Linked DNA regions of Homo sapiens. The protein of the gene in region 1 purifies or fractionates together with the protein of each later gene. This does not show direct contact. Each region holds a gene or a part of one and is shown in the gene's direction. Other genes may lie near its edges.

Region 1 (4,566 bases):
TGATGCCAAGTACTGTGGTGGTCCTGAACAATTAAAGAGGGATTCTGGGAAGCAGAGTGTGGACAGTTCCAACTCCCTGCCAAGGGGAAGCTCATAGGCAAAGGAAGCTCACTCCAGAGGGGATATGGAAGTTCCATACCCTCTTTTGTCTGAAGAGCCGAAGTCCCTGTTCTCAGGTCGTTAGGAAGTTAAAAAGTAATTTGGAGGTTATCAGAACTGATTGAATTGAGTTTGAACCTCACCTATAGCAACAATGGGCCAGGCTGCTTGACTAATGCCTTGGCGTCAATGGTACAGTTTTCTCCCTCTTGAGCTGCTGGCAGGGACCTGGGCTGACATGTCTCAGAAGGCCCTTAGTCAATGATTAGCTTATCTCAAGGCCCCAAGCCAGGGCAGCTGTCAAAGAGGGTCCCCACTGCGTTCTGCACCTAGATCCTCATTGTGAAATGAAGTATGAAGTGATTGAGTGAGGTCTCTATTGTCTCTGACATTTTACAATTCCAGGATTCTGCCTTCTTGTCAGAGAAGTGTATAGGCAAGCAGTTGGGCAGGTGAGAGGGCTCCGGGTGAGAGGCTCAGAGACTGAGGGCTCAGCCTCTGCTTGAAGAGTCATCATCTGGGAGGCTCTGTGGCCTCCTCAGATGAGTTCATTCACACTCATACCCCAAGATGGAGTCAACACCCCCTCCACCATCTCAGCCTTCTCAGCATCTAAAGCCCCAGCATCAATGCCTCTTTTTTTGGGTTAGGGGTCAGAGCTGTTGTGGAAGGGCATACAGTCATTCTTCACTTGCCTTTGACTGTGTACTCTGTGCACATGGAGGTAGGAGCAGACATGACTTCAACAAGGTCATGCCCCCTTGGCAAGCATCTTTGAGACCAGAGAGGAAGACAGACTAGGGAAAGAATGAGGAGATAAGCACGGGCTGCTGTGAGGTCCAGGGGAGCAGGCAAAGGTAAGAGAAAAGGCTTTAGGATACTAACTAACATATATGGAGCACTAGCATGAGCCAGGCACTATTCTAAGTGCTTTTCAGGTGTTATCTCTTTTTGCCTCACAACAGCACCTACAAGGCACTGTAATTATCCCTACTTCACAGATGAGGGAGTGGAGCCACAGTGAGGTTAACTTACTTGACCAAGGGGGCCAAGTAGGAATGGAGGCATTTGTTGAGTCTTCTAAAGATGAGGAAAGAGTGGAAGTGAGATTTTGTAAGTGCTTGATTCATTTCTACCAACTGAACTGGCAAATAAATAAAAGCATGAGTAAATGGGGGTATAAATAGTCTGTCAGCTATGGGGGTGGGAGTGGGCTCAAGGCAGGCTTAGAGAGAAGGTGCAAGAGCTGTCTGAAAAGGTCAGAGCAAAGCATGAAGCTGGTGAGCAGCTGTGACCATAGCTGGAAGCTTCTCTCTGAGCTTTCTCCTGGTTACCTCCTCCTCCCCTACGTGACCAGTCAGCCAAGTGTTAAGTCCAGGGGAACATTTTGCTGCTTCCAAGTACTGTCTCACTAGTGTTATTTGCCATAACTTGCGGCCACAGGGCAAGGTCCAGGTGCTCAGACCTTTACATCCTGGACTTTCCAAGGCCTCCCAAAGCTCTCTGGCACCCAGGGAACAGTGTGCGTGTCGAGAGCTTAATCCGCAGGAGCATAGCCATGGTTCTCTGGGGTCCAGTGCTGGGAGCTCTGCTGGTGGTCATTGCTGGATACCTGTGCCTGCCAGGGATGCTCCGACAACGCAGGCCATGGGAGCCCCCTCTGGACAAGGGTACCGTGCCCTGGCTTGGCCATGCCATGGCTTTCCGGAAGAATATGTTTGAATTTCTGAAGCGCATGAGGACCAAGCATGGGGATGTGTTCACAGTGCAGCTAGGGGGCCAGTACTTCACCTTCGTCATGGACCCCCTCTCCTTTGGCTCCATCCTCAAGGACACACAGAGAAAACTAGACTTTGGGCAATATGCAAAAAAACTGGTGCTGAAGGTATTTGGATACCGTTCAGTGCAAGGGGACCATGAGATGATACACTCAGCCAGCACCAAGCATCTGAGGGGGGATGGCTTGAAGGATCTTAATGAGACCATGCTGGACAGCCTGTCCTTTGTAATGCTGACGTCCAAAGGCTGGAGTCTGGATGCCAGTTGCTGGCATGAGGACAGCCTCTTTCGCTTCTGCTATTACATCTTGTTCACAGCTGGCTACCTGAGCTTGTTCGGCTACACGAAGGACAAGGAGCAGGACCTGCTACAGGCAGGAGAGTTATTCATGGAGTTCCGCAAGTTTGACCTTCTTTTCCCAAGGTTTGTCTACTCCCTGCTGTGGCCCCGGGAGTGGCTAGAAGTGGGCCGACTCCAGCGTCTCTTTCACAAGATGCTCTCCGTGAGCCACAGCCAGGAGAAGGAGGGCATCAGCAACTGGCTGGGCAACATGCTTCAGTTTCTGAGGGAGCAGGGGGTACCCTCAGCTATGCAGGACAAGTTCAACTTCATGATGCTCTGGGCCTCCCAGGGGAACACGGGGCCTACCTCTTTCTGGGCCCTCTTGTACCTCCTGAAGCACCCAGAAGCTATTCGGGCTGTGAGGGAGGAAGCTACCCAGGTCCTGGGTGAGGCCAGGCTGGAGACCAAGCAGTCCTTTGCCTTCAAACTCGGTGCCCTGCAACACACCCCAGTTCTAGACAGCGTGGTGGAGGAGACGCTGCGGCTGAGGGCTGCACCCACCCTCCTCAGGTTGGTTCATGAAGACTATACCCTGAAGATGTCCAGTGGGCAGGAGTATCTGTTCCGCCATGGAGACATCCTGGCCCTCTTTCCCTACCTCTCAGTGCACATGGACCCTGACATCCACCCTGAGCCCACCGTCTTCAAGTACGATCGCTTCCTCAACCCTAATGGCAGCCGGAAAGTGGACTTCTTCAAGACAGGCAAGAAGATCCACCACTACACCATGCCCTGGGGTTCGGGCGTTTCCATCTGCCCTGGGAGGTTCTTTGCACTCAGTGAGGTGAAGCTCTTTATCCTGCTTATGGTCACACACTTTGACTTAGAGTTGGTGGACCCTGACACACCACTACCCCATGTTGACCCGCAGCGCTGGGGTTTTGGCACCATGCAGCCCAGCCACGATGTGCGCTTCCGCTACCGCCTGCATCCTACAGAGTGAGCTTGGCCAAGCCAGCTGCAAACCTGGCCAGAGGAGTTCTATTGCATCTCTCACCTGTTCTCACCCCTCTGCAGCCCCAAGACCCCACTGGCCACCCCTCCCTCTGGTCCTGTGGCACCCCCTACCTCTGTTCTGCCTGTCCTCGCTCTCTCCCCGCCTAGTCATCTGACAGGCTTATCATTCTCTTTAAAATACCATCTCTCAGAGTGGGTTCTGCCGAACCCTCCTCTCACAGGAAGTCCAGAGGAAGGGGGAGTATCTGTGGGCAACTTGGTTTGGGAGATGATGCCTGCCTTGAGAAGTCCTGAGTACAGAGACTGGTTCCCCCCAGACACGAGTAACATGGCATCTTGCAAACATCAGCCTCCACTCTCCCAGCTTGCTTTAGTTTTTTCAGCAACACTTATCCCACATCCTATGGAATTCAGGTTCTAGAACAGTGTCATCCAACATAAATATGAAGCAAGCTACATGAGTAGTGGGGTTTTTTGGTTTTGTTTGTTTGTTTTGAGACAGAGTCTTGCTCTGTCGCCGAGGCTGCAGTGCAGCGGTGCGATCTCTGCTCACTGCAACCTCTGCCTCCTGGGTTTAAGCAATTCTCCTGCCTCAGCCTCCCCAGTAGCTGGGATTACAGGCACCTACCACCTTGCCCAGCTAATTTAGTTTCCTGGTAAACACATTTTTAAAAAGTAAAATGAAACAATTCATTTTTATAATATACTTTACTTAATCCAATATATCCAAAATATTGGCATTTCAACGTGATCACTATTAAAAATTTTAACGTAATAGTTTTTACCTTCCCTTTTTCATCCTGTCTTCAAAGTCTGGTATGTACTGTACTTTTGCAGTTCTTCCCAGTTCAGACTAGCCACATTCCAAGTGCTTAATTGCCGTGTGTGGCAGGTGGCTGCCCTATTGGATAGCACAGGTCTAGAGAAATGATACCTTTTTTTTTTTTTGAGACAGAGTCTCACTCTGTTGCCCAGGCTGCAGTGCAGTGGTGTGATCTTGGCTCACTACAACCTCTGCCTCCCGGGTTCAAGTAATTCTCCTGCCTCAGGCTTCTGAGTAGCTGGGATTATAGGTGCGCACCACCACACCCGGCTAGTTTCTGTATTTTTAGTAGAGACGGCGTTTCACCATTTTGGCCGGCCTCCTCGGCCTCCCAAAGTTCTGGGATTACAGGCATGAGCCACTGTGCCCAGTCAGGATGTCTTTAATGTAGGAATCATTCAAGATCCCTCCTCAGTGCCCATGTCTCCCCCACCTCAGGGTGCTGTCAACCCTCCCTTGGTTTCCATGATCATTGCTGAACTCAGAGCTTTCTTCTATCCCCAGACCCACATGGGAGTCTCCCAGCACCTCTGACTCAGCTTGGCCAATGCAGAACTTGGCATCTG
Region 2 (3,813 bases), on another chromosome or scaffold:
GGAAGAACGTAACAAGGAAGATACTGGTTTAAGGTTATGTTCCTGCTTCTTATTGAGAGGTAGTTCTGTAGTCTTTATTATATTGGTCAGTGGTTGGGAAGGCAGTTGATGCAAAAAGAATAATGACCTATTGGTAAGGCAGTCCTCTTATATCTGATCCATAGTTTCCTCATGTCCATTTTGGTGAAAATAAAAACTAAATAGCCAAATGTGTTTTAAAAAAATGTGTTTTAGGGCCCTGTGTGGTGGCTCATGCCTGTTCCCACCACTCTGGGAGGCCAAGGTAGGTGGATCACTTGAGTCCAGGAGTTCCAAGACTAGTGGGGCAACATGGTGAAACCCTGTCTCTCCGAAAAATACAAAAATTAGCTGGACGTGATGGCATGCACCTATAGTCCTAGCTACTTGGGAGGTTGAGGTGGGAGGATCACCTGAACCCGAGAGGTCAAGGCTGCAGTGAGCCATGATTGTGCTGCTGTGCTCCAGCTTGGGTGACAGAGACCTTGTCAGTCAATCAGTCAATAATGTGTTTTAATAGTTTGGCATGGTAATAATTTGCTTGCAGTCAAATTTCTAAATGACTTTACTGTCCACTGCTGGAAATCACTGGGAATGAGTGTAAACATGTCAAATGCAGCCCTGTGTTTAAAAAGTAGTAATAAAATTTAAACTTCCGAAAATAAGCTGCATACAAGTTTATTTTGCTGCATTATGAATATGTTCTCTAGTGAGCAAAAATCAACTTGTTTTGACAGATGGCAGAGTGAGAAAATGACTGGATTGACCATAGTCTGTTTGAGTCAGTAATGTTGGTAAACATCTTTGTGAAATAGAAATGAACTAAAGAACTTGAACTAGTTTGAGGAAGATAATGGTAGGCCTAAGATTTATTCCAGGCCTTTAAATTTAGGTTTTTGTTTTGTTTTAAATAGCTGTGATCTGGGAAATGCAAATCAAAAGCACAATATGATACCACCTTACTCCTGTAAGAATGGCCGTAATCAAAAAATTAAAAAAAAAAATAGATGTTGTCAGGGATGTGGTGAAAAGGGAACACTTGTACACTGCTGGTGGGAATGTAAACTAGTACAACCACTATAGAAAACAGCGTGGAGATTCCTTAAAGAACTAAAAGTAGAACTATCATTTGATCCAGCAATCCCATTACTGGGTATCTACCCAGAGGAAAATAAGTCATTAAAAACAAACAAACAAACAAATAAATAAATAGCTATGATCAGATAAAATGAAAGGTTTAACTTACACTTGAAAAAACAAGGGCATTTAGCCTTAAGCTTGGAATTTCCTTTTCCCAGACAGAGATTTTAAGAGTTAATCTAATTTTGCTAGGTGAGGAGGGTTTTGGAACATTTCATGGTAAGAGGATATCCCCAAATAAGGCCTGTCAGTCCTCTGAATGCTCTTGCAAACCAGACACACATTGGAATAGACTAATGGTGGTTTTAGCTGTATCAATTTGAGGTTCAGATGTTTCTAAATGATTAATGATTTTTTTAAAAATAGACACTACTTATATGAGTAAGTGAAGCATGTTTTATATTGTTTCTTAACTAGGTGCATTTTAGGGAGTATTAGAGGAAGTAAGCTCTTGACTAAGGTACTGGTTTTATTGCTATTTACAGTTAAACTCTCTAGTGACATTTATAATAACACAGTCCTTTAATTATGGGGCGTAGTTGTCAACTCAATCATGTACTGTTTTGGCTAATGGGCTACATGAAGTGTTCTAGTGGTGCCAATAATGAATGCAGAATCAATTTAATGCTCTGTCACTTTTCTCTTTTTCCTCCCCTAATATCTTAAAGTGTCCTTATCCAATCTCATTAGAATAGCCTTATGTTTTTAAAAAAATTCCTAACAGTGTTTTTGCATTTCTATCTTTGAAGCTTAGATGGCAGGAGGGAAGGCTTGTAAAATGTCAGCCCCCAGTCCCCCTCCTCCACTCCCCATTTGTGTTGGTTTCTTAGGACCTCTTGCTAAGTAGTGAGGAAGATAAACCCCTGCCTATACTGTGAATGCTCGTGGGATTAGTCTTAATTGAAAGATAGCCCAAATAGGTGAATACAGAAAGAGAAAGGGATACTTGACAAAATGGTCTCCATTTGCCCAGGACCCTGTCATGCAGCCCTGTCCTTGTTAAATGGGGACATATATAATTTAGTAAGCACTTTAAAAATACTCACTGCTTGCCTTTTAATAAGCACAAAGATGGTAGTTTGTTTCTGTTATGATTTACTAACTATTGGAGATTTCTTATCAGATAACCTTTCTCTAAAGATGTCATAACTTAGTTATCTTGAATTATAATCTTCAATTATCTGTAGAGACCAATGAGACACCAGTTGGTATGCTTTGCCAGAGTGGACTTTTAAATCATGTTGACATGTGCTGTGTCCTCTGTTACTTTGTCTTGGCTTTAATTACAGTTTTGTCTATTATGTCTAATTACTACTCTATTCAGATATCATTTTTGGGAGAACACTAGCTCTTATGACTCTGATAGAGATTTCTGTAAGTTTTTGTAAATTCAGATGTGTGCGACACTGCATTGAGAAGGGTAATTTATTTGGCAAACTTTAATTTCAATCCTGGATCATTTTACAGCAATGATCAGAATTGTGTTAACAATAGGTATATATAGTGCAGTTAGTTCAGTTAGGCCTGCCGTGTGTACTGTGTGCAGGTATTCTGTATTAGGATGTTAATCATGGAGAAAATATCAATTTAATGTAAAAGGTCATTTCTTTTCAGGATTGGCCATTTGATGATGGAGCTCCACCCCCTAATCAGATAGTAGATGATTGGTTAAACCTGTTAAAAACCAAATTTCGTGAAGAGCCAGGTTGCTGTGTTGCAGTGCATTGTGTTGCAGGATTGGGAAGGTAAACTCTTACCTTTATTACCCTTTTTGTCTGAATTCATTACCATGCCTAAGTTAGTTGAAAGTTTCACTTTGGTAGACATTTGCATATATTATACTAAATAACATTAAATTACCTGAAAGGAAAGGAAATGAGAGGAAAAACTAGTGTAATGATTTCTCAAAAGAGCCTGTTCATTTCATCTGGTTGTCTGATTCTGATGCCAGCCTGGATTGTGGGTGTTTTATTTTTCTCCCTATTTCAAGTAATCAAAAGTTCAGGTCACTGAAATTGGCAACAAAATTAAAATAATTTTAGAGTTTGATGAATCTATACATGGTTAATTTTGGACTGAGATGAATGGGAAGTTAATAGATAGCAGATATCTGAACTTTAAACTCTTGAAAGAAGATGTATGGACAAGAATTGACTTTGATCTTAAAACCTTTTCCCCTGAGCATTGCTTAGAATGGTGTTGCAACGCTGTCATCAGCAGCAGATTAAATGCCAATTTAGGATGCACACTTTGACTCAAAACATTAGTGTAGGCTGCCATTGCCTCAAGGTGGTGATTACTCAAGCTGTTAGTTCTGCTCTGCCCTTTTGTTTGCTATTTCCTTTTTTGTAGTGTGGTACTGTTTGTTCATAAGGTTAGAAGTTTTAGTCCTTATCCTGAAGGTTGAAGATAATGTTGTAACGTGAGTTGGCAGTTTTATAACTAGTAGCTATCCTAGTTTTAGGTAGCCCAAAATTGGTGCCCTGTAATGGGCTTTATAAAAACATCATTTCCTTTGTTAAATTTTTTTAAAAAGATAGAACTTCTTCTAGTCATCAATTCTTGGGCATTTTCCTAGCTCATCAAAAGGATTTTCTTGAAAACGTCTAGCACCTTTTTAGCATTTGATAAGGAAATATTAAAATCAATTGGTAA

The links.
Region 2: the proteins of CYP8B1 (region 1) and PTP4A2 purify together in Homo sapiens (affinity purification with mass spectrometry; one large-scale study listed by BioGRID and IntAct). This does not show direct contact.

Annotation. Positions count from the first base shown.
Region 1 is NC_000003.12:42,872,908-42,877,473, reverse strand, and holds the start of CYP8B1 (7-alpha-hydroxycholest-4-en-3-one 12-alpha-hydroxylase), read left to right. Parts: upstream 1-1,594; 5' UTR 1,595-1,657; coding exon 1,658-3,163; 3' UTR 3,164-4,566. UniProt on the Homo sapiens protein: A cytochrome P450 monooxygenase involved in primary bile acid biosynthesis. Catalyzes the 12alpha-hydroxylation of 7alpha-hydroxy-4-cholesten-3-one, an intermediate metabolite in cholic acid biosynthesis.
Region 2 is NC_000001.11:31,910,786-31,914,598, reverse strand, and holds part of PTP4A2 (protein tyrosine phosphatase type IVA 2), read left to right. Parts: intron 1-2,772; coding exon 2,773-2,903; intron 2,904-3,813.